Linked DNA regions of Homo sapiens. The protein of the gene in region 7 purifies or fractionates together with the protein of the main gene of each other region. This does not show direct contact. Each region holds a gene or a part of one and is shown on either strand. Other genes may lie near its edges.

Evidence for each region.
Region 1: the proteins of DUSP2 (region 7) and MAP2K3 purify together in Homo sapiens (affinity purification with mass spectrometry, with the first as the bait; one large-scale study listed by BioGRID). This does not show direct contact.
Region 2: the proteins of DUSP2 (region 7) and DICER1 purify together in Homo sapiens (affinity purification with mass spectrometry, with the first as the bait; one large-scale study listed by BioGRID). This does not show direct contact.
Region 3: the proteins of DUSP2 (region 7) and RPAP1 purify together in Homo sapiens (affinity purification with mass spectrometry, with the first as the bait; one large-scale study listed by BioGRID). This does not show direct contact.
Region 4: the proteins of DUSP2 (region 7) and ATP2B1 purify together in Homo sapiens (affinity purification with mass spectrometry, with the first as the bait; one large-scale study listed by BioGRID). This does not show direct contact.
Region 5: the proteins of DUSP2 (region 7) and ESPL1 purify together in Homo sapiens (affinity purification with mass spectrometry, with the first as the bait; one large-scale study listed by BioGRID). This does not show direct contact.
Region 6: the proteins of DUSP2 (region 7) and XPOT purify together in Homo sapiens (affinity purification with mass spectrometry, with the first as the bait; one large-scale study listed by BioGRID). This does not show direct contact.

Annotation. Positions count from the first base shown.
Region 1 is NC_000017.11:21,312,211-21,315,710, reverse strand, and holds the end of MAP2K3 (dual specificity mitogen-activated protein kinase kinase 3), read right to left. Parts: coding exon 3,430-3,500; intron 2,220-3,429; coding exon 2,174-2,219; intron 1,565-2,173; coding exon 1,481-1,564; coding exon of another isoform or gene 1,401-1,480; 3' UTR 479-1,400; downstream 1-478. UniProt on the Homo sapiens protein: Dual specificity kinase. Is activated by cytokines and environmental stress in vivo. Catalyzes the concomitant phosphorylation of a threonine and a tyrosine residue in the MAP kinase p38.
Region 2 is NC_000014.9:95,091,530-95,095,029, forward strand, and holds part of DICER1 (endoribonuclease Dicer), read right to left. Parts: intron 2,628-3,500; coding exon 2,359-2,627; intron 1,166-2,358; exon of another isoform or gene 1,040-1,165; intron 1-1,039. UniProt on the Homo sapiens protein: Double-stranded RNA (dsRNA) endoribonuclease playing a central role in short dsRNA-mediated post-transcriptional gene silencing.
Region 3 is NC_000015.10:41,527,258-41,530,757, forward strand, and holds part of RPAP1 (RNA polymerase II-associated protein 1), read right to left. Parts: intron 2,723-3,500; coding exon 2,607-2,722; intron 2,312-2,606; coding exon 2,213-2,311; intron 1,080-2,212; coding exon 978-1,079; intron 771-977; coding exon 603-770; intron 349-602; coding exon 166-348; intron 45-165; coding exon 1-44. UniProt on the Homo sapiens protein: Forms an interface between the RNA polymerase II enzyme and chaperone/scaffolding protein, suggesting that it is required to connect RNA polymerase II to regulators of protein complex formation.
Region 4 is NC_000012.12:89,590,694-89,593,838, forward strand, and holds part of ATP2B1 (plasma membrane calcium-transporting ATPase 1), read right to left. Parts: intron 603-3,145; coding exon 291-602; 3' UTR 1-290. UniProt on the Homo sapiens protein: Catalyzes the hydrolysis of ATP coupled with the transport of calcium from the cytoplasm to the extracellular space thereby maintaining intracellular calcium homeostasis.
Region 5 is NC_000012.12:53,281,799-53,285,298, forward strand, and holds part of ESPL1 (separin), read left to right. Parts: intron 1-465; coding exon 466-637; intron 638-1,330; coding exon 1,331-1,459; intron 1,460-1,583; coding exon 1,584-1,740; intron 1,741-2,259; coding exon 2,260-2,369; intron 2,370-3,500. UniProt on the Homo sapiens protein: Caspase-like protease, which plays a central role in the chromosome segregation by cleaving the SCC1/RAD21 subunit of the cohesin complex at the onset of anaphase. During most of the cell cycle, it is inactivated by different mechanisms.
Region 6 is NC_000012.12:64,417,892-64,421,391, reverse strand, and holds part of XPOT (exportin-T), read right to left. Parts: intron 3,347-3,500; coding exon 3,277-3,346; intron 2,517-3,276; coding exon 2,298-2,516; intron 1,323-2,297; coding exon 1,138-1,322; intron 1,040-1,137; coding exon 871-1,039; intron 158-870; coding exon 1-157. UniProt on the Homo sapiens protein: Mediates the nuclear export of aminoacylated tRNAs. In the nucleus binds to tRNA and to the GTPase Ran in its active GTP-bound form. Docking of this trimeric complex to the nuclear pore complex (NPC) is mediated through binding to nucleoporins.
Region 7 is NC_000002.12:96,142,669-96,146,664, reverse strand, and holds DUSP2 (dual specificity protein phosphatase 2), read left to right. Parts: upstream 1-1,224; 5' UTR 1,225-1,310; coding exon 1,311-1,698; coding exon of another isoform or gene 1,699-1,782; coding exon 1,783-1,904; intron 1,905-2,291; coding exon 2,292-2,511; intron 2,512-2,627; coding exon 2,628-2,842; 3' UTR 2,843-3,496; downstream 3,497-3,996. UniProt on the Homo sapiens protein: Dephosphorylates both phosphorylated Thr and Tyr residues in MAPK1, and dephosphorylation of phosphotyrosine is slightly faster than that of phosphothreonine. Can dephosphorylate MAPK1.

The DNA.
Region 1 (3,500 bases), on a different chromosome or scaffold from region 7:
CAAGTCTGTTTTTCTGTCTTATAAGCTGTGTGGCTTTGGGTAAGTGATGTCAGCTCTCTGGGTCTGTTGTTCCCATCTGTAAACTGGAGGTCAGGTAACCTCCATGAGGTCACCGTGTCCAGCCCAGGCAAAGTGTGCAGGGTGCTCGCTGCTCTGTGACCTGGCTGTCATCACTACTTCAGGACAGTGGGATGGGTGGCCGCCACCAGCAGACTGGACCTGTGTGTTCGCTGCTCTGTCCAGTGTCAGTACAGGGCCTGGTGCCTGGATGATCACAGGATGTTACCTCATCACAGCCCTCTGGGGGCCTCTGTGTCCTCAGATGTAGAAGGGCCTGGTAGGTTGGCAGTCCTCCCTCCCCTGAGCACGACACCCTGCCCCTGGCCCAGAGACAAGGGTCCCTTGAAGGGCCACAACCTTCCCCAAGTAAGAGGGGGGCTCACAGGTGTCATACACAATCTCACACAACCTTTAGTCCTTTTTTTTTTTTTTTTTTTAATTAAAACAGCAACCAGGTAACTGCCCCAACCCATCAGGGAAAGGACCCGGGATGGGCAGTCGTTTTTTCAAAAAAATATATTTTCTTTTTTTAAAAACAACACCAAAGCAAACCCATAGCCCCTGTCAAGCCAGTCCTCAGGGAGAGTGAGCTGGAAGGCTCCCCCTGCACTTCTCTGAGCAGAGATCTTGGGCCCCTCCCACTGGACCCCAGCCTGAGCAGAGGGCAAGGCTCTGCCTGCTGGTACCCTAGGGGGTGGGGGAGAAGCGATCAGCTCCAAACCATGCAAGAAAAACAAGCCAAACCCATAAAGCAAAAGAAAAAATCAACAGAGGATAAATTAAAAAAAACACGAAAGGTGAATGACACCGATAACGGTGGCGGGCAGGACTGGGTGAGCCAGTGTGCTCCGCAGAGGCCCTGTTTGCCAGTGCCAGGGGAAGGCCTTGGGCGGCTCATGGCATCTCCCTCATGGGAGTCTTGGGGTATTCACACAACTCATCCCCTCTTGTGTACCCCGCACCAAAGCCGGGATAGAGGTGTGGCCACCCTGGGCCAAAGTGTGCAAAGTCCATTCAGTCGAGAGATTAAAAAAATATACAACTTGGATGGCATCCAGGCTGGGCAAGGCGGTGGCCCATCCACCCAGGCACTGGCAGCCTGCTGTGCAGGGGCAGCAGCATCCACAGGGGGCATCCAGGCCCCCTCAGTCCAGGATCTCAGCAGCTGGAGACGGGTCCTAGGAGCAGCAGGGAGAGGCACTGGTGGGGCCGACAAGGGCCTGGCTGGGAGCCCCAATGGTCTGCTTCTTTGGCACTTGGGACAAATGGCTCGCCACAGAGCCAGGTGGGAGCAGCCCCCTCGGTTCCTCCCAGATGCCCTGGGCCAGGATGGCAGTAGCTTATGGTGTGGGTGAGCACTGCCCCCGCAGATGGGGCTGTGGGGCTCTGGAGGGCCGGAGTGGGGTCCGAGGCCCAGCCCCTATGAGTCTTCTCCCAGGATCTCCTTCACGAAGGCAGCAATGTCCGTCTTCTTGGTTTTGTGCAAGGTGAAGAAGGGGTGCTCCTGGGGGTGACAGAAGGCACAGTCACCATGGAGGGGTAGCGGGAGGGAGAGGTGGCCACTCTTCCCCAACCAGCTCCAGCCCAAGTGTTCTCCTGACTGGCAAAATCCTACTCATCCTTCTAGGACCTCCACCCCCAGGAGGCCCTCCATGACTGTCACAGATGGCATCTGTGGCTCCTCCTCAGCTCTCTTGTGGTCACTCTCCAGCCACACTAACCTCCCTTTCCCCCCACACGTCAGGCCTCTGCCCATGCTGGACCTTCTGCTTGGGACAGCCTCTCCATCAGGAGATAACCCTTATTCATCCTTCCAGGCTCAGTTCAAATGGTACCTCCTCCATGAAGCCTTCCCTGATGCCACCCTTGGCCCCTCTGCCCCATTCTGTCACACACTGCCTGTGTACCCTTCCCAGGGCCTGGCATGCAGGAAGGAGGGAGGAGGGAGCCAGGTATGCAGGAGCAAACAAATGACCGAGCACCTAAAGGAGAGAACACAGGGCCAGCCAGAGGAGCTACCCATCTGTGTGCAGGATGCAGCCCTCTCCCCAGAGCCCCACCCAGCCCCAGCCAGCCCTGAAGAGCAGGGCAGGCACCTCCCGCCCATACTCACCATCAGCTCCAGGTAGCTCATACGCTCTGCGGGGTTCTTCCTCAGGCTAGGAGAGAATAGTGCAGCTGTGGCCAGGCTGGCAGGGAGGAAGCCCAGCCCCCAAGGGCCAGCCAAACCACCCCAGGATTGCCCCAGGCCTAGCAGCAGGGGACACGTGCACCCAGGGAAGAAGGGACAGGACTGTCTAGGGCTTCTTCCAGGGTGGAGGGGCATTCATAGGAGCAAACTAGAGACTTGCAGCAAGTTTCTCTGGCTCCTGGGGTCCTGGTTTTCTTGTCTGCATAGTGACCTAGGAATTTCCATATCAACACCAAAATGGGGCTGCAATGCTCTGCCTAACAGTCACACACTTGGTATCCTCAATCAGGAGAGAAACTCCTTATCATGGGTTCTGGGAGAAGTTAGTCCACAATTAAAGGGGTCAGACTGCCCAGGGACTCTGCTGGGCTCCTCTGTTGCTGATTATGGTCAACAATAAAAGTGCGGGGACCATGGGTGTGAGCCACCGCACCCGGCCGCTTCTTCCTTACCCAATTCTTGCTCTATTTAATTAAGTTCAGAGAAGTTGCCCTCTTCCTTATTCCTTCTGTAACCTCAAACATGATTTTTTTTTTTTTTTGAGACAGTCTCACTCTGTCACCCATGCTGGAGTGCAGTGGCATGATCTCGGCTCAGGCTCACTGCAACCTCCGGCTCCCGGGTTCAAGCGACTCTCCTGCTTCAGCCTCCTGAGTAGCTGGGATTATAGGCATGCGCCACCACGCCCGGCTAATTTTCCTATTTTTAGTAGAGTCGGGGTTTCACCATGTTGGTCAGGCTGGTCTCAAACTCCTGACCTCGGGATCCGCCTGCCTCGGCCTCCCAAAGTGCTGGGATTACAGGCGTGAGCCACCGTGCCCAGCCTCTCAAACATGATTTTTATAAGGCTCCTATGGGGCATTCTTTAATTTGGTACAAAGTTCTAGATATCAATAAAAGCAAACTTGTTTTTTGTGTTCAAATTTTCCATATACTTTGTTCTCTTTTTCAGTCTATCTGATTTGTCCACTTCTGGAAGAACTGTATTAAAATCTCCCACCAAGACCATCGTTTTGTCAAATGCTCCTCATGCTCCAGCTGTTTCTGCCTTACATATTTGGATGCCAAGTCATCTGGGGGTTTATTTGCCAAAGGAATAAAGGAACAGGGCCCAGGAAGGTGCAGGGATCTGGCCAGGGAGGGGCAGTGGCAGGCGCTCAGCAGCACCCAAGACTCACCACTGAGCAGTGAAGTCCACAAACTCGGGGGAGAAACGGTCGGCTGGGAGCTGGGGGGACGGCTCCTCCAC
Region 2 (3,500 bases), on a different chromosome or scaffold from region 7:
ATATTTTTAAAAAAGTTTTTCAAACTTCTCAAGAAAAAAAGAAAAAATATCCCCACCCCATTTATTATTCTATATACCCAGCAAAGAAAAAAGATTACTTCTAACTTTAAACAACCTTAACAAAGAATTAGAAATAGTCAATAAAAGTATGAAAAAAATTCAAATTCACTCGTAATCAAAGAACTATACTTTAAAACAGTTCTACTCCCTAGCTGCTTGGCAAGCATTCAATAGTACTAATTGGTCTGGTGCTGGCACGGGTGTATGCTGCTTTGGGGAGCAGAAATCGCTGTTGTAGGGAAATAGGGAAATTATATTTGAAAGATTTTTTCCTCCAAGTTCCCTCTTCATTAAGCCACTAGATATGTGTTCACTATAACCGAGTATCTGACATAGCATGTATGCAAATTAATAAAAGAAAATCATGCATCAAAAGCCTTTGAAAAGTTCACAATTCTTTGATGCAGCAATTGCATCTCTAAGAACTTATTTTAAGGAGGTAACTAGATACATAAGCGTATTTATCACCTCCATGGTTATTAAACATCCTAACCAAAAACTACTTAATTACTCGGCCATAAAGAAGCGTTTAAATCAATCAGCCACGTGTTGACTAGCGTGTGGCCCCTGAGCATCACGATACCCATCAATACACGGAAAGTCAGCCACAATATATTATACGTGAAAAGAACAGGTGACAGTATCCTATACATAACAGAATTCCATTTTACATTTTAGATATGTTTATATCTATACACATCCACAATTCCTCCCAAAATGTTAATATTGGTTATTTCCGAGGTAGCATAATCAGGCAAATTTAACTAATTTTCTTCTTATTTACTTGTACTAACTTTTCTAAAATCAACACAAATCATTTGTGAAAAAAATAAAGAGAAAGTGGGAAAATACTAATTTCTAATAGGTTGTTTAGCCATACAAAGTTACATATAATACATTTATACTGCTGATTACTTAAAAAAACAGACTTATTGTTCATATTTATGGTTTTGAGATAGAAAGGAATTTTAAAACTTACCAAGTTTAATTCTCTCTTTTTACAGCTGAGGAAACGGAGGCCCAGAGAGGTAAAGAGACTTTCTTAAGATCAAATAGTAAGTTAGAAATGCCAGACCATGACATTTCCAATCAGTTCTTGTAACTTCTATACATATGTTTATATAAACAAAGGGAAGGAAAAGAATGAACAAAAACTAACAAAACCAATATGCCCCACTGGCATCCAAAGAGAGCTTAAATCTAATTTTAACTAATTCCTCAAATTTCAAGCTTAGCTATTTCTAAAGAATGAGACTAGGTAACACTTGGAAGTCTACGAGCTGGTCCCGCCTTCTCGCCTCACAGCCTGCCACGCTCCAGCTCAGGCTGTTCATCTTGGACAAGAGCACAGAGGCGCGTTAAAGTAAGAGCAGGGCCTACTGACTCCTCCAGTGCACATCTGGGCAGCTGGCAGGGCGTGAACTCGGCTCTGCGGCTAGACTTCAAACCTACTCTTAATTTTTGTCATAGAAAGTCACTACTCCCCAACAAAGGTTTGGTGCAATTAAAAAGGGGAAGGTACAAATTAAAGCAATGACAACTAAAACAGCTACTAGTATTAAGGTTGTATTTCCTGACTCCTTATAAGAAAATCTACAAAAATAAGAAAATCAAAGGAAATGAAATGGGAAGAGGAGGAAATGAGAGTCTCTCTGGGGGACACAGGTATGCAGATGAATGTTAAGAGACTGGAAAGATCTAAGCAATATCCTTTCCTACAAAAATTCGAAATAGCTCACAAACACATTAGAATTAGCTCTGTCACCAGACAGCCTTTGGCTGAACTTACAATAGAAGCCTCCCAAATTCCAATGGTCAAAAATTTAGAAGTTTGTTTTTTAAATTAGATTTTCCCACTTCAAGTAGAAGCAGAATGTATATTTATGATGCTTCCCTGAGATATTAGCAAATATTTCTGATCCATTTAAAAAAGGAAGGATAAGCTACACTGGGCTTTTACTAAAGCTAAACCTGCCTTGGGGTCCGGCAGTGGAGGCCACTTCTTTGGCATGCCTCAATGCTGGAAGCCCTCATGAAGGCGTGGGAAGGGTACCTAACTGAAAGGCCTGGTTCCTTCTCTTCACCTGAATGACCACACAGCCCACAGTGGGGGCAGACAAGTTCAAGAGGCCTACCTGCAAACTGCAGTTCACTCGTGCTCCCACAGAACACAGCACACTGGGTCCCACACCCCTGACCTCCTGCTGTCCCTTTAGACCACTATGCCGTCAGAACTCTGAAACTACAGAGACTCCTAGTTAGACCACTTTTTTCAACATCGTTTTGAACAGCACTAACCTCAGAATCCATTCCTTGCATTTCATTCTTCTCAAGCTGAAACTGCACAAAGTCATCAATGACATGGAAGAGCTCAGGAGAGACAGCTTTGAAGTACTTGTGGTAGTCGTACTTTACAGCCAGCGATGCAAAGATGGTGTTGTTGACCAGGGCAGACCGCAGGTCTGTCAGGACCCCCGGGGAGTGCTGCCGCGGGTCTTCATAAAGGTGCTTGGTTATGAGGTAGTCCAAAATCGCATCTCCCAGGAATTCTAAGCGCTGGTAACAATCTGAGGGGATCCGAAGTGGAACCGTAAGCTTGTGCAGAAGCATTTACACTATCCCCACATAGCAACTGATCCCCAAATCCGAAGAAGATTTGTATTTACAATCATTTTCATACATATATTCTTCAAAAAGGATATCTGACATATCATACTAAAAAGCCTCTGGAAACTAAATTTTAATGACAAATTAAGTACATTTCTTATATAAACTGGGGTCATAAAATCTTCAAGTGGTCAAAAGACTAACGCTTGTTAAGAAGGAAAAACAAAACCTCACAGGTGCTATCATGATCACTGAATGCTTTTCTCTGGCACTGTGCTGTCTGGGCAGGTGCTGGGGCCTTCCTCTCGAGTCTCCCTCACACATCATCACTTAAGTGAAACCAGGGCCGCACACACCTCTCCATGTGGCTACACTGTGCTGCCATCGCTAAAGTCTCATTCACACTCTGGAATCTGTGCATAAGTGATACCATTCCTCACTATTCCTGGGCTATTTTTGTTACACAGGATGACAGGAAAAGAAGACCCTCTTCTTAACTTGAGCTATTATAGAAATGAATTTACCACAAACCAAGAGATTGAGAAAGAAGAGTTGTGAAAGGGAGCAAAGGCAGGTAAACTGGTTGTCAAAATGTGAAAATGATCAATGTTAAATCAACACCTCTATTTTCTCACAGTGATTAAAATAATATATCCAGCTGAGGAAACTGAGGCAGGGACCGATGGTGACTTGTCCCAGAATAAGCAAGGAATTAAGAAGCAGGGACTGCTAGGCGAGAACCCAGGTCTCGGAACTTCCAGCAGAATGTAGTCGAAAGCCACGTATCATTTTTCCTCCATAACGAAAATTAGGCTTTAGTTTCATCAGTCTTT
Region 3 (3,500 bases), on a different chromosome or scaffold from region 7:
AGCACGTAGCGCAGCCGAGGCAGCAGGCTGGTAGCCAGGAGCCCCTGGGAGTTGGAGAGAGAAACCCACTGACAAATGCAGCTGGACCCTGGGCATTGATGGCCCCTCTTTCCAGCATGTGCTTGTCCCCTGGGCCATGGGATGGGAAAGAAGCTGTCCCTTTACCTTGATGACATCATGTCGGGCCAGGTCAGGTGGAGGCCGGCTTTCTTCTTCAGGGCTTTTCCTTTTTGCTTTTCCTGCTGGGCATTCTTCATCCTCGTCCTCATCCTCCTTGTCCTCCTGGCTGGGCATCAGAGGGAACGTCAAAGCTCCATGGTACCAAGAGAAGGTGCTGTCGAGGAGCTCCTGCCAGAGGAACGGGAGTTGGGGGGCAATGCTGAAGGGGCCAGGAAATGGATCCAGGAGTAGAGAGGATGCTCCCCAATAAAAACCATAAAGGCAAGCCTCCTGGGCTTTAGGGACTTTAGGAGATGAGGGAGACGCCTGCCATCCCATTCTACATCTTGCCCGCAAAGCCTTAGCAATGGGGCCATGCCCAGGAACAGGAATATGGACCCTGGCACCTCCCAGCCCAAGCCCCATTCCTATCCCTGTGGTACCTCATCTCCAGGAGCCACCAGCAGAGCCCGAAGAGCACGGATGGCGGTTGCAATGACCCCATCCACTCTGTCATCCAAGGAGAAGCGCAGTAGGAAGAGGAAACCAGCATCCAAAAGGAGGCTTAAGACACTGCCTGCTAGCCGGTCCCCAAACTCACCAGCCTGGGCCTGAGGGCAGGAGGGTAAAACCTTGCTGAAGATGCTGAAGTTATCTAGAGGCTTTGCCCTAATCCTTCGTTTGCCCCCCTATGATCCTAGGTTGTTAAAAGCACATAGCTGGCTAGTGAGCCAGAGTGAAAAGGGCAGGAGATGGGGAAGTCTGAGGCTGTGGGGTGAAGGGAAGGGTGGGCAGGACCAGGCTGGCAATCCACTCACCCTGCTGATGACCTGGGCTAACACATGCAGTGCCAGTGCTCTCTGCTGGGAAACCTGGCTGCGGGTCAGGTGGAACAGCTCCTGTAGGGAATACCCCGCTCTCTGGGGCAGGGACAAGAAGTCAGAAGCAGCCAGGATACAGCACAGTGCCCCCAAAACACCAAGCAAGGTATCACAGGAAAGACAAAGATAAATAAGTGAAATCTGCCCTGCTTTCCATGGAGCCTCAAGCCGGTAAAGATAAGACTTGCATACAAGTAACCATGCCATGAGGCAGATGCAGAGGAACGTGATAACTGATGTTTAATTTGCGACCGGCGGACAGGAGAGAGAGAGAAGGGAACCTGGAAAATTAAATTGGTCTCAGTGGATGGGTAGAGCTTTGATGGCCTGACATGGAGCAAAAGGCAAAGGCATTTCCTGGAGCGAGTGGAGTCCTGGAGGGCCCTGAGCACAGGAGGTATGTGGGGAGAAGCCAGCAGAGTGGTGTAGCAGGAAGTGAAGGAGGCAGAGCAGCAGGGTCAGCAGGGACAAAAGGTAGAAGGAATATCTTGCCCAGCTGAGACCAGAACCTTATTTTGTGAGCAGAGGGAAGCTGGGAAACTTCTGGAGGCAAGGCATGGCCTGAGCTGGGCCAGAAGAAATCAGCACAGCAGCCCCGAGAGACATGGAATGGCAGGGGGGCGGAGAATGGAGGGCATGGAGAGTGAGCAGACCAAGGAAGCAAGGCCACAGTGCAGGAGGCATCATGAGGAGGTGACAGAAGATCGGCAAATTCTAGCAACTGACCAGAATACGGAGAGAGGATCAAGATTTTGAGCCTAAGAAACTGAATGCCACGCCTGTAATCCCAGCACTTTGGGAGGCCGAGGCAGGCGGATCACAAGCTCAGGAGATCAAGACCATCCTGGCTAACATGGTGAAACCCCGTCTCTACTAAAAATACAAAAATTAGCTGGACGTGGTGGCATGCGCCTGTAATCCCAGCTAGTCAGGAGGCTGAGGCAGGAGAATGGCTTGAACCCAGGAGGTGGAGGCTGCAGTGAGCCAAGATCATACCACTGCACTCCAGCCTGGGCCAGAGCGAGATTCTGTCTCCAAAAAAAGAAACTGAATGCACAGCAAAGGCATGAACTAGAACAGGGCACACAGAAGGTCAAAGGCAGTTGACCAGAGATCCTTTTCCATGGGGTTGTTAAAAGAGCTGCCCCATCCTCTCCAGTCCCATGCCTCACCTCTGCCTCCTCTCCATGGTGGTGCAGACCCAGGTGGGTGGGCAGGTCCACGTCAGGGGCCAGTAGTTCTCCCTGAAGACTGAATCGAGCCTGCATCCTCTAATGGGAAGAGAAAGAGGACTGTGGTCTGGGGGCTCCAGCAACCTTCCCACACCCACTCCCCACCTTTAATCCCAGGCCTTTCAGGACTTAGGTACTGACTCTACTTCTACCAGAAATGGGGCTTATCTGGCCTTGGGGGCCAGGCAGAGTGATGGTAAAGGTGGGTGAGAGCAAAGGAGAGATGCTTCTCAGGCTCTGGGCAATAGAAAGGCCTGAGTTCTGAGGGCAAGAGCAGCAGCTCCTCTCCTGCCCTATCTCACCCACCCCTTGTAGGCCAGGTGGCCCTCCTCACCTCCTGTGTCTGCTGCCGCCGGACAGGGGGCAAGTCCTGGGTCCAGTGGAGCTTCTCCAGCTCGACAGTGTCCATGTGCAGCCATTCTTTCTGAGGGGTCACGGGCAATGCCAGAGCTGGGGAGACAAAGCATGATAGTATTACCCAAACGGCTCAGCTCACTATCCACAGGGGTCCCCACCATCACCCAGCAGCTGCCACATCCACTTCTGTTCCAGGATCTGCCAGCTTCTACCCTCGGTTATGGCTAAATGGCATGGCCCAGGGACTGGAACTCCTGGGGCTGGGGTGAAAGTCTCAAATATGACAGACACACTCCATCCTGGGCTCCAGCCCCTTGCTGACCCCAAGGATTTGTTGGGAGGGGAGAGAGGAGGAGAAGGAGAAGGAAGAAAGAGAAAGAAAGGAGAAAAAGATGAAGAAGGAGGACCACATATGTCAGGAAGGCACCATCTCCACTTTCCAGTACCAGCCCTTAAAGGAGTAGGAGAGTGGGGACAATGAGGAGGAGGCAACTATACTGCTCCTGGGGGGCAGGATACAGAAACAAATCCCACAGCATTTTCCTCCTTCACGCCTACCCCCACCCAACCTGCTCAGCTGGCCTGGAGCTCCTCCGGGGGCATGAGGTTCCTGGCTCTCATAATTCAATTTCTTATTTTGTTAATCACTAATGAAATAATCTAGTTTCTGGGAAATGAGTGCTTCCACTGGCCTCTCTGCTTCTGGTCTGGCATGTTCATAAGATCTTTGTCAGATTCTGCCTCTCTTATTACTCTGGCCCTGCCATCTTTCCCCCAGCACTGTGAGCAGAGAGAGAAAGAACAGTGGGATGGACAGAGCCAGAGCTGGGGCAGCTACAGCAAGGACAGGAAGATAGTCTGCCGGGAGCGG
Region 4 (3,145 bases), on a different chromosome or scaffold from region 7:
AATACACTGTTCAGGACCATGCTTGGGTACTACTGATGATCCACAGGTCACTTACGCTGAGTTACTGTTTATCTGTCAGTTCATTTCTCCCACCCCCCAAAAAGCACCCTCAGTCTGGCAGAAAGCTTTGCTTTTTTTTTTTTAAAAAAATAAATCTACATTCGTACAAGTGTGTCTTCTGTTGAAGTCCAAAGACAAGAATACTAGCTTGTCCATCACAATATGTGAAAAGACCCAGTTTCAATTTGTTTCTTTACAATGCAGCTAGTGTGTTAACATTCAGCTTACAATCAGAGTGATGTTTCCAAACTATGTAGTGGGCTTCCTGGGGATGAAGAGGTAGCAGACTTGTTCATTTCTATTGTAAGGTGAATTCCACTGTCAACAGCATTGTTATTTTTGTTGGGAGAGGGTGGAGGACTGGAGTTACGTTTTGTAGGAGCATCATCTTCGGCATCAGTGTCATCAATAAGGGGGATATGAGGCTCTGAATCTTCTATCCTAAACTCAGGATGTGTCATAAAGTTGTGAATCGAACTTCTTGATTCCGGTTTTTCTAACCCTTCATATAAAGAACTACGAAATGCATTCACCACTCGAATCTGTAAATATCAGAAAATACAGAAATATGTCAGTACACTATTAACAACTTAAAAATGGTTCATTTATGAGTTTGAATCCACAAACAGCTAGGTATGAGTGAATCATATTTGCATGTAATGCAGTGGAACTTGCAATACACTGTAAAAAAATGAATATTTTAGTAAGACACTACAGAACAACAAAACCACATACTCTAAGAATTAAGAGGTAAAGAATTCAAAGTAATATTAAGAAAATCTCATTGTCATTGGCTAAAAATTTAATAGCCATTTTATAGGATTTTTTCCCTAAAAGAACAAATCAAACACAAAACAAAACAAAAACTTAACCATACACAAGCTTAGCTGATTTTTTAAATTAAAAAGAATGTATTTTGAAAACAACTCAAATAAGTTAAACAAAATCAAGCACAAAGGGTTACTATTTATCATGCTAGGAATTAGGGTGTCACCGACCATGAAAAAGCCAAGCAAATATAAGCTGAATGCCACAATGAACTCACATCTACCCCACTACTCCCTTAATTAAAAACAAAAATAAGAACAAAACCCAAATAAATGTCTATAAAATGCCATTAAACAGCTATAAATATTTGAGTATATGCCATTTGTCTATCATTTGTCTATAAAGTTTTAGTGTTTTTCTCTGTAACAGATTAAAACTTAAATCAATTACTACAGTTATCTGGAAAGAATAGATCAAAAACAAAAACAAATCCTCTGGGATTCTTCTGTGAAAAATTTCCCAAGAAGACACAAAGTGTTAAAAGTTTTCTAGTATTTTCACCCCTAAGCAGATAGCTCAACAATTCATCTTCCTCTCAGTCTGCTGTATAAATGAAAAAGATTAGTGGGCAATCAAACTTAAAAACATCAGTGCACACACTGACATTAAGTGCTATTAACTCAAGCGTCATTCAGATTTAGAAAAAAAAGGACAAAATCCAACTAGTTGAGCATTTACTATGTATCAATTCAAATACAGTGTTTGCTTTTGCTTTGATTCTAATAAATCCTGTTTAGTAATAAAGACATCATTTACTCATTGTTAAGAGAAATAAATAACACTTTGACATTCTAGAAAAAAGATGCGGTCACCAAATTCATCTCTTTAGACAGCAATAATGAATAATACATTTCTTCAAATGAACATGTGAATGTGTTTAAAAAAATGTAATGTAGAGTTTAGGGCCATGCACCCACATCTCACCTTCAAGTTGTCTTTCCTTATTTGCCAAGCCCTATTTGTAAGCTGCTTTTAGTCCATATTCACTTAGCCCTTTATATAGAGAGTACAGCATAGTCAACTGAGAAATACAAAAGCAAAATGTCTGGGTGTAAATTCCAGCTCTGCCACTTACTACCTGAGGAACCTCGGTCAAACAGGTTTCTTCAACTATAAAATGGGAAATAGCAATGGTACTTGCCTTACGGGGTTGTTGTGGGAGATTAAATTCGTTAGCACACTACAAACTTAAAACAATGTTAGGTCACAAGTATCGAGGCCAGGGCTTCTCGAACTTTAATGTGCATACAAATTAGTTGGGGATCTTGTTAAAATGCAGATTCTGATTCAGCAGGGGCCTAAAGTCCTGCATTTCTAACAACCTCCAAGGTGATGCTAAAGCTGCTGGTCCATGATCCACACTTGGAGCAGCAAGCATCTATTCTATTAATGTCTTGCAGCTTTACCATCTTTTATAATTCCATTCTATTTGATTGCTTGTACTTCAGTTCCTTAATTTGACTGATGAATAGCAGCAAATATTTTTCAACTTCTTTTATTGCTCTTGTTCCTCTTCCCCTTTACTAAGATGTAAAGTGTTCTACATATGGAATGTAAACAATGTTTGCTAAATATAACGTTATAGTAATTCATTCAGTGTTTTATTGTGAAGTCTTAAAATTCACATTTTATACATGTGAACATTCAGCAAGTATCCTGACTGTCCTAATAACAAACTGTAAAGCTTAAAATGCAAAAAGATAACTTTCTAAAAAAAAATTTGTTGGTATCAGCAGCCCGTAGGCACGGAGGAGAATACAAATTAGAGGATCAGCCAGCAAACTTGATGGGTGATGAGAACTGTTCAAGACAACCCTGAAGATGTTGCTTATTTGATAAGGTTGCTGGTGCTGCTGCTACTGAAGATAGAACAACAGTTAAGCTTTCTGTGTATGTGTGTGTTTTCCATCTGTTTTTCTTTGTAATCAGTCGGTATAAAAGTGAGCAGTGAAGAATCGGGGGGAAATAAATGTACTTTTTAAACATGTTAAATTTGGAAAATATCTAGAGCTCAGAAGAAAAGTGTAAACTTAAGTTAGAGATTTGAGAGTTAGTGAAGCTCTAAGAGGGGCAGAGTGTAAAGGTGAGGGCAACAAGTATATGTGCACACACAATCACACACATACACCGGTGGCAGGCAAAGAAAGATTAAATCCCTTCTTAGCAAAACTTCAATTCTGAGAAGATTTTTCCTATCTGAATTTGTTGAACAATATTAGAGATTTTTTTTTTCTAACCACTTCATAAATAATAAAAC
Region 5 (3,500 bases), on a different chromosome or scaffold from region 7:
CTCCTCTGGTAGAGATACAGTCCTTTTCCTTCTTCAGGGGCAAGGGGGAAAGTCTGTCCTGTGACGAAAAGCTGGGACAATGGTGATCCTGGGAAGGCATGGGAGCTCTGGACTAGAAATCCAGGGGATGGCAAAGACTTGAGTTTTCTCCCAAACTAGTTGTGTGACTTGGGCACGTCTTCTACCTTCTCATGCTCTAGTTTCTTCTCTACGTTTTTATCATTCCTAAATTGGCGGACAAGTCACTGGTGAGGGCAAAGCTAGGAACTGTTACTGCTTCTCAGGGTCAGGAACATTCTGCCTAGGTCCAGGGAGATCTCGAAAGCCAGGCAAATATTCAGAAAATTCTAAAATCTTTCTAATACCCAGGGCCTTCAGGGATGGGGCCACGTAATCTCCAGGGCCTCTCAAGCTCTGGAGTGCCTGACTGCCTTACTGCCTCCTCTGGCTCCTTCTCTCCTTCAGGTGACCAAGGGTGTCTCTCTGCTGCTGTCTGTGCTTCGGGATCCTGCCCTCCAGAAGTCCTCCAAGGCTTGGTACTTGCTGCGTGTCCAGGTCCTGCAGCTGGTGGCAGCTTACCTTAGCCTCCCGTCAAACAACCTCTCACACTCCCTGTGGGAGCAGCTCTGTGCCCAAGGTGAAAGAATAGGGTGGATGGCCCCCCTTGGATGACATGTATGGTCTGTCTGCTGTCAGCTCTTCTCAAACCTCATCCCCTCTGCTGGCTAACTATGTGGCCCAGCCTACCTAGAACCTGCACAGAGTAGGCCTGGGATAGCAGATGGGTTTCAGTTTGCCTGCTGACTCTAAACAATTGGTGACTGCCTGGAATACTAGGCTGAAAGGATTTTTTTTTCTTTTCTTTTTTTTCTAAGACGGAGTTTCGCTGTTGTCACCCAGGCTGGAGTGCAATGGTGCAATCTCAGCTCACTGCAACCTCTGCCTCCTGGGTTCAAACGATTCTCCTGCCTCAACCTCCTGAGTAGCTGGGATTACTGGCATGCGCCACTACGCCCGACTAATTTTTGTATTATTAGTAGAGGTGGGGTTTCACCATGTTGGCCAGGCTGGTCTCAAACTCCTGACCTCGGGTGATCCGTCTGCCTCAGCCTCCCAAAATGCTGGGATTACAGGCTTGGGCCACTGCGCCCAGCCAGCTGAAAGGATTCTGAGACCCCAGGGGATCTCAGAGGGAAGGAGTTATGAGATTGATTAGCTCTGCCTGCCTTAATGCAGAAGGAAGCATGGGAAGCAGGCTTTGCTGCCTTAGTAGCTAAAAGTGGTGAAGTTCTGGCTGCATCTTCTCCCTTTTTCACCCCACCCACCACAGGCTGGCAGACACCTGAGATAGCTCTCATAGACTCCCATAAGCTCCTCCGAAGCATCATCCTCCTGCTGATGGGCAGTGACATTCTCTCAACTCAGAAAGCAGCTGTGGAGACATCGTTTTTGGACTATGGTGAGTCTGGGGAGGACAGCAGGGCCCTCTTGGAATGGACAGGCTATGTGAGAGGGCTGCGGTTTTTTCTCCAGAGGATCCACACTGTGGCTGAGTGATGGTGGTCTTGTCTCTTTTGCTACAGGTGAAAATCTGGTACAAAAATGGCAGGTTCTTTCAGAGGTGCTGAGCTGCTCAGAGAAGCTGGTCTGCCACCTGGGCCGCCTGGGTAGTGTGAGTGAAGCCAAGGCCTTTTGCTTGGAGGCCCTAAAACTTACAACAAAGCTGCAGATACCACGCCAGTAAGTACAGGGCCAGAGGATATGGCAATGATGGCACCAAAGTGCCATGCACCCTTGAACATGGATTCCAAACTGTTCCACAGATTACATGCTATGTTTAGATACATTCGTGGAAAAAGGCATTCCACAGCTAAATAAGTGGGAAATGCTGAGTTAATCAAGGTTAGATGTTTTTATTTCCTGTAGGACTCTCGTGTCCTTCAGTATGCGGATGTGCCTTGCAAATCTCCAAAAGGGAGATCTAGTGTACAGTGTTTCCCTAAGAATGTTTTCCCACAGGATTCTTTTATTGAGGAATGCAGTTTGGGAAATCCTGTCCCAAGGCACAAGGAGAGTTGGGATTAGAGAGAAGTGTAGAGGGTTTTCCCCAGGGAGCCTTTAAGTCAGCTTAAGGGAGTGAATGCCTTTTGGAGGCAGGGAAGGACTCAGGTAGCTTGGCCTGGGAAAGAGGCAAAGAGAAAGACTCTCCAGGAAAACAAAGGATTCCTCTGATTGGTTCTCCTCTCCTCTCTCAACAAGGTGTGCCCTGTTCCTGGTGCTGAAGGGCGAGCTGGAGCTGGCCCGCAATGACATTGATCTCTGTCAGTCGGACCTGCAGCAGGTTCTGTTCTTGCTTGAGTCTTGCACAGGTGAGCAGCCATGTCCCCATGACCATAGGCGGTGCTGAAATGACACACACTACAGCACATCTTTCTATGTAAAGGTTTCGTTGCCTTTTTTTATTTTTGAGACAGAGTCTCACTTTATTACCCAGGCTGGAGTGCAGTGGCGTGATCTTGGCTCACTGCAACCCCTGCCTCCTGCCTCCTAGGTTCAGGTGATTCTCCTGCTTCAGCCTCCCAAGTAGCTGGGACTACAGGCATGCGCCACCACACCCGGATAATTTTTTTTATTTGTAGTAGAGATGAGGTTTCACTATGTTGGCCAGGCTGGTCTCGAACTCCTGACCTCAGGTGATCCACCCGCCTCGGCCTCCTAAAGTGCTGGGATTACAGGCATGAGCCACCGCTCCCGGCCTTTGTTCCCTTTTTAATCAGATACTGACTTCTGGTCCCAGGGCAACATTCCCTTGACTTTAGTCCAACCATTGGTCTCCCTCTTTCAGAGAGCCTGTCCCAGACTTACCCTAGTTCTAGTTTTCAGTGCTTCCTAATACATTTTGGCTATTTAAATTTGATTTAGATAATATTTAGGGCCGGGCTCGGTGGCTCATGCCTGTAATCCTAGCACTTTGGGAGGCTGAGGCAGGCGGATCATGGGGTCAGGAGTTCAAGACCAGCCTGGCCAACAAAGTGAAACCCCATCTCTACTAATAATACAAAAATTAGCCAGGCATGGTGGCGGGCACCTGTAATCCCAGCTACTCAGAAGGCTGAGGCAGGAGAATAGCTTGAACCTGGGAGGCGGAGGTTGCAGTGAGGAAGATTGCACCATTGCACTCCAGCCCGGGTGACAGTGCGAGACTCTGACTCAAAAAAAAAAAAAAAAAGAAGAAAGAAAGAAAGAAAGATAATATTTAGAATTCAGTCCTCAGTCACACTAGCCACACTTCATGTGCTCAATAGCCACATGGCTAGTGGCTACCGTATTGAGTAGCACAAACATATCCTCAGGAGGGCTGAAGCTAATAATAAAACATTGCATTGATGGCACATTTTGTCTCCCCAATCACATATACTTCTAGTACTTCATTTGCCCCACACTAGACCTCATAAAGCTGAGTGGGAGCATAGATTATTTTCATTTGTTAAATGAGAAAG
Region 6 (3,500 bases), on a different chromosome or scaffold from region 7:
GCAACATCAGTGCCACTTTTGTTTCAATAGCTTGTAGTGCCTCTTGAGCATTCTTAATATCCCCATTCTTAATTAATTTACTCCAACTAACTATCAATGACTGTCCCATTCCATTTACCAACTTAGAAAATCTGGCCAGGAAGTCAACATCTTCTTCCTATAAGCAATCAAGACACATCTCTGTTTAAAACTGCCTGCCCAAGCTAAGAGGAAAAACTGAACTTTAATATGAATCAAGTGCTAATTACAGGATTCAATTTTAAAATGACGTCATATATTTAACAATTCCAGGCTGGGCACGGTGGCTTATGCCTGTAATCCCAGCACTCTGGAAGGCCGAAGTGGGTGGATTACCTGAGGTCAAGAGTTCGAGACAAGCCTGGCCAACATGGTGAAACCCCGTCTCTACCAAAAAGGTAAAAAATTTGCCGGGTGTAGTGGCATGCGCCTGTAATCTCAGCTACTCGGAAGGCTGAGACAGGAGAATCACTTGAACCCGGGAGACGGAGGTTGCAGTGAGCCGAGACTGTGCCACTGCACTCCAGCCTGGGCAACAGAGTGAGACTCCATCTCAAAAAACAAAACAAAACAAAAAATCTCAATTCCACTATGAACAAGTTGTGTCAGCATCTCCTAAGAGTTTGTGAGAAATGTGCAATTACAGGCTTTCAGGTTTAAGAACTGGTATAACCCATTCTCCAAGGAGAATGCTACTGAGAACATTTTGGCTAGATGCAGTGGTTTATATTATAATCTCAAGGGGAGTTTATAACATTTAGAAGAAAAAAAGCTATTATTATATTTAACTTAGTACCTATCCCAGTTTGTTCTAACAACTTTACATACAATGTTTTATATAAATTTACCAACCTGGTCAATGCTGAAAAACCCAGCAGACTGTAATACTTGACACAAAGATTCCACTAGTTTCATTTTATCAACAGGGTCCATTCCTTTATTTACAACTTCAAATAAACAGTCACATGCTTCTTCCCGTAGAACTTCTATTGACATATGACCTAGCAGCATATTTATAAACCTGGTAATGGGACAATAAAATTGTAACATTTTCAAAGTCATGAGTTTTAGATACTGTATTTTACAAGTTTATACTATAAAAATAATAGGCATACTTACCTATCATTGGCTATAAGGGATAAGTCTATCCAAGAGACATAAGCCCCAACTACTTCAAGGCACTGACACGTCACTTCAGAATTAGTAAACTGATAATTTTGTAATATTTGGTACCATGATTCCACCAGATTTGGAATGCACTGTTCCCTCATGGTATCTTTTATGAGAGTATTCCTACGAGCCTCCTAAAATACAAAACGCCAAATGCAAAGTAGATTACCTTACAAAATCATGTTTGATATCTGAATATACTTGCAGAGAGTAAACTTTCAGACTTGTTAACACATTCCCTACCAGTATTTCCTATTTACCAGCTCTAAGATCATATCCTGTGATTCTTTGTATTTCCTCTTTCTGTTCTACTCCTCAGTGTCAGAGTTAATTTCTTAGTAAATACAAACTATAAAAAGCACTGCTTAGAAATCTTAAGCATATTTTAAGTTATTTCTCAATATAGTAACATAGTACTTACACTATGTGATGAAGAATACAGAAGTAGCAACACGGACAACTCCTAAGCAATGCTTCTTCCTTGCTCAGGGACTATATAGCAGTATTAAATTGAGACTACCTTTCTCAACAGATTCATAAAAGAAAATCAACTCGTGTATGTCACTACAGTATTTGCCTAGTTAAAAAAAATTTAGGCTGGGCGCAGTGGCTCATGCCTGTAATCCCCACACTTTGGGAGGGCAAGGCGGGCGGATCACCTGAAGTCAGGAGTTTGAGCACAGCCTGGCGAAACCCAATCTCTACAAAAAATACAAAAATTAGCCAGGCGTGGTGGCATGTGCCTATAATCCCAGCTACTAGGGAGGCTGAGGTGGGAGAATCGCTTGAACCCAGGAGGCGGAGGTTGCAGTGAGCCAAGACTGTGCCACTGCACTCCAGCCTGGGGAACAGAGCAAGACTCCGTCTCAAAAAAGTAAAAAAATAAAAAATGTAATGTAATACTTTAATTTCAATATACCTCTGGAAAAAAAATAACCAAGTTTGAGTTCCTTCATAAAATAAAATCCAAAACATCAGGTAAATTTATAATTATATAACTTAAGAAAGTTTACCTCAAGAAAGAAAACTTCCCTGCTCTTTTTATTATGTGCCCATTATCACCTACAAAACTTACATTAAATATAAAAAATTCATGGTTAGTTACTTGCCTCTGATGTATGCACCACATCACGATCCACCAACTCTGAATCAATAGCCATGAGGATTCGCAGGTAGAGATCTACTCCCCTTGGATTTAGGTCCACTACTGAGAGAATGTCAAAAAAAAACTTGGGCCACTTAGTGAGATACTCTGTAACAAAAAGCAAGGCGAAGACTTGGGCGGCTTTATTTCGTATAAAGGTCTTCTCTGGTTGGGGATTCAGCATCTGACAAACAGAGAAACAGTCCATAAAATTAAATGTAAATTGAAAAGACCCAGAAACACCAGTTGTCTTATTAAAAGGCAAAGTTTCATCAAATGTCAACATGGCCCAGATAAACTATGCAACAAATACTCTTCAAAATTATTTTGATAATTATGATTATCAAAATTATCAAAAGTATTTAAGTGATTGACCAGATGAAGAACAATTAAATGAACCATTAAAGGCTGTAATGATTATTCCTCATTCTTACACTTTGACAGAAAAGTTTCATGTGCAGAGTTTTAATAGTTCCTATAATTTCTTCTAAGAAGAAAAAAAAATTTTCCTCTACTTGCTCTTTAAGGAAAATGAAAACTCTAGCTACACAACTGCTTTATGTGTTAAGATTAGCTAAAATTAACTGAAAAGAACTCAACTGGCCCTTTATAAAGGGCTCTGGTGGAGAGGCTGTCCAGGAGGGCTCACCTTTAAGAGCCAAACAGAAAGCAGCATTTGTCAAGTAGTTAAAAACAACTACATTTTAAAACCAAAGTTTCCACAATGTGTCATGGAAACTATGACCATTTCAGTCATTGATATAATATTAAATTATTGCTAAACTACCACTTCCATGATCTTTAAAACCAGCACCTTTTAAAAAAGCTATGAAATCAAATGGAGGAACACTGATGAAAATCTTTGAGGTAAAGTTCCAAACTCTTGCAAAAAATAAGTTTAAATATCTAATAATTTGAGGTACTGAATGAAATTATGATTTTACCTGAGCTTGCAGCCATGATATGAGCGTCTCCCTAATTAGCTGTTGTTGAACAGTGGTTAGTTCTGAGTATCTGTTCAAAATAGAGAAGAAAAAGAATAATGGCTATATTTGGTGTCTATGGTTGTAAAAAATAACAGCCTCATATATTTGAAAGGGAAAATTTGTATAGCTCTCAATTATCTGAAGTTCCCTAACATAAACTGATAATGCCACTCATCATTGCT
Region 7 (3,996 bases):
GGGTTCTGAAATCCCACGCAGCTGGGGGCAGGGCGAGGGCAGCTCCAGCGCAGTGACGCTGTCTCCACCCACCTCAACTTCTCTGCTTGAGTTTGGGAGTTCACTGCCAACAATTCTTGTGGCTCAGACACCCCACGCACACCTGGGCCTCACCACATCCGGCAGCAGGGCTGGGGGAGGGCGGAATGGAGGGGATACCCAGGCCCCCAGTCCTCCGGGTGCAGTGCTAGCCCTGGACTTTGCTGCCCGGCGGGGCTGGACAGGGAGGCCTAGGATGGGGGAGGCCAGTTCTGTTCTGCTTCTCCCTCTTCCCCTTGCCAAGGTCTTGAAATCCCCGCAGGCCTGGGGAGGGCCGGGAGCGTCAGCGGACTTCCCTCCAGGGCGGGCTTGTGGCAGGGGGAAGTACTTCTCTCTGGGGCCTGGGGGCTTTCCCTGCACCCAGGAGGAAGAAGCTTTGCCCTACACATAACTGGAAACCAGTCACAGACCCCTGCTTTCCCCATGAAAGGCCCTGGGACCCCCCCTCATTTCCCTTCGGCCCAAGCCCAGGGGCCTGGGCCCCGGGGACTGTGTTCTGGCCTAGCTTGGCCACCAACCTACTGCAAGACCCTGAGTACTGGTCTTATCCAGGCAATGGGGGGTGGGGAGGGGGAGGAGAGAGAAAGTCCCTCTGGCTCAAGGTCTCCAAATAGATGAGAAATAGGACATCTCAGCAGGGACCCCCCCCATCATCCAGTGTAGAAATCACCCGTGGCAGCAGGCATTTGTCAATGTTTGTGGTGACAAATTTCTAAGAGGAAAATTCTGGGAGGGAAAGGGAAAAGGCAGAGGAAGCGTGGGGTTAGGGGGTGGGGTACTCCAAGGGTCATCGTTGGCCCTAAAGGGGGACCTGCATCTGAGAAGCTGGGTTCCCCAGGACTGAGTGGCTTGGGACAGGTCAAAGGGTGGGCGCAAAAACGGAGGGGTGCTAGTCCCTCCGACTCCGGGTAACACCTTCCCTTCCCTTAGTCGCTGGTCCCCGCCTCCTCCCGGTGTGTTGGTCCCCGCGCCCTGCCTTCCCCCTCAACCTCCCCCCCGCCCCGAAGTCTCCAGGTCAGCCCAGACTGCGCCCCACGTGAGGGGCGGGGGCGGGCGCGGGCGCCAGCGCCTTCCTGCTCTGCCCTTGTATGGTGCCCCGGAGGCCGGCCCACGGGTACTTAACCCGGGCCGCCGCGGAGGGCGCCCGGAGTCGACCGCTCGGGCAGCGCCACCGCCACGAGAGCCCGGGACGCGGGAAAGACCGAAAGGAAGAGGAAGAGGCACCGGTGGCCATGGGGCTGGAGGCGGCGCGCGAGCTGGAGTGCGCGGCGCTGGGCACGCTGCTGCGGGATCCGCGGGAGGCGGAACGCACGCTGCTGCTGGACTGCCGCCCCTTCCTGGCCTTCTGCCGGCGCCACGTGCGCGCCGCGCGGCCAGTGCCTTGGAACGCGCTGCTGCGGCGCCGCGCGCGCGGCCCTCCTGCCGCCGTTCTCGCCTGCCTGCTGCCCGACCGCGCGCTGCGGACGCGCCTGGTCCGCGGGGAGCTGGCGCGGGCCGTGGTGCTGGACGAGGGCAGTGCCTCGGTGGCGGAGCTCCGGCCCGACAGCCCGGCTCATGTGCTGCTGGCCGCGCTGCTGCACGAGACCCGCGCGGGGCCCACTGCCGTGTACTTCCTGCGAGGTGAGCAAGCCGGCCGCCCTTGGCCCGCCCCACCCGACTCCAGCCCGGCTTTCCCTGCTGATCGTGCTCTTCCCCTCCTTGCAGGAGGCTTCGACGGCTTCCAGGGCTGCTGTCCCGATCTGTGCTCTGAGGCCCCCGCCCCTGCGCTGCCGCCAACAGGGGACAAAACCAGCCGCTCCGACTCCAGGGCTCCTGTCTACGACCAGGTGAGTATTGACCCCCCTCCCCCGAACCTCCCTCTCTCCCCGCCGCGGACTGGGCGCCTCTAGGGAAAGAGCCTGCCATTTGGGGATGCGAGCAGTTTGCCCATATACACACACTTTTATACGTGTGTGTGTTGGGGGAGGGGGTGGGGCATGGCTGCTCGCGCGTGCCTGTATGGGTCTGTGTATGTTTGCATGTGTATGTTGGGAGCATGAAGGGAAATGTATGTCCCGGTGTGTCCTCCGCACATTCCTGAGACCTGTCTCAGGTCAGGAGGACTGGCTGAGGAGTCCTCTTGTCTCGGCCAGCCCATGGGGTCTCCACCCGCTGCTGCTCCAGCTCTCCGGGGCTGGGCTGGAAAGGCCTCACCGCCCCTCTGTTCCCTCCAGGGTGGCCCTGTGGAGATCTTGCCCTACCTGTTCCTGGGCAGCTGCAGTCACTCGTCAGACCTGCAGGGGCTGCAGGCCTGTGGCATCACAGCCGTCCTCAACGTGTCCGCCAGCTGCCCCAACCACTTTGAGGGCCTTTTCCGCTACAAGAGTATCCCTGTGGAGGACAACCAGATGGTGGAGATCAGTGCCTGGTTCCAGGAGGCCATAGGCTTCATTGGTAAGGGGGCACCTCTGCCCAGAAATCCCGAGGGGCTCCAGAGGAGAGGACTGGGGGCACCTGTCTCCTGGGCTGTGCACATTCCGTCTGACACCACTCCCCCATCTCCCTTGCAGACTGGGTGAAGAACAGCGGAGGCCGGGTGCTGGTGCACTGCCAGGCGGGTATCTCGCGCTCTGCCACCATCTGTCTGGCATACCTCATGCAGAGTCGCCGTGTGCGGCTGGACGAGGCCTTTGACTTCGTTAAGCAGCGCCGGGGGGTCATCTCCCCCAACTTCAGTTTCATGGGGCAGCTGCTGCAGTTTGAGACCCAGGTGCTGTGTCACTGAGGTGGTGCCCCTCTGCCTGCCTGCCCCACTGTGCTGGCAGGAGCTGACTGTGGACTGGTGGGCTCCCCTCTGGGCCAGCACAGTCCCCTCACCTCTGGCAGGGCTGCTACCTCCTCAGAGTTTCAGAAGCCCCCACATGGGGGCTCTAGGAATGCCGGCATGCTGGTCTTTCCGACCTGGTGCTCTTCTGCTGGGGGACTGAGGCTGGCCCTCATTCGGGGTCGGGAACCAAGGGTGTGTCTGCTCTTTCCCTCCCCATCCTCTGGCAGAAATCAGCTAGACGCTATACCGTGGACTCTCCCTGGTCCACCACCATGTTGAAGCCCTTGGCAGCCTGAGAGCTCCAAGGAACAAGCTGTGACAACCAGGAGCCCTGTCTGTGGGTTCGTCTGCCCAGGGCCTGGAGCCCAAGCCCTGTGTTCCTGGGGAAGCTGGGGACTTGGGAAGTGATGGGTGTGTCATGTTGCGTGTGTCTGTCTGTGAGCCTTTCACACCTGTGCTGGCGCTGGAAAATTATTTGTGCTCAGCTGACATTTAACACTCCCTCCCCCGCTTCCTCCTAGCCCTGTGGGCAGGGGTTGGAAACTTAGCACTTTATATTTATACAGAACATTCAGGATATGTCAATAAAATATTGTTATATTTAAAAAACAACAACCCAGCATCTGGTCTCATCTGATACCCGGGAGCCTGCTTGGACCTCACGTTTCCTTGTGCCCTTGGGGTTTGGGAAGTGAATGGGCAGAGGGGCCAGCGGCCGGAAGGGGCAGGTCTGACCCTCCCCACAAAGGCTGCTCTCTTGGCCCCAGTTCTCCCTGGGCTGGCGTCTTTTCCCAGACAGGGACCTCGCTCCAGAGCTGAACAGGGTTGTTTCTGGGAGGCTGGGTCCCGTCCGTGACTCAGAGCCAGGCCCAGTGCTGCCCCGATCAGACCCCGCTTCCTTTTCGGAATGTGGAAGGATGCGAGTGTGTGCCTGAGGGTGTGGTCCTGTGGGGGTGGGTGGTCTTGGCCCATGCACACCTGCATGTTGCGCATGGTGTTCCTGTGGGAGCGTGTGTGCACGCCCACACAAGAGGCACTTCCCAGGCCGTGTGGGTCTCTACTTCCTCACAGCAGGCCTGCATGGCCTCCCTACTCTTCTCCCACATCCCAGG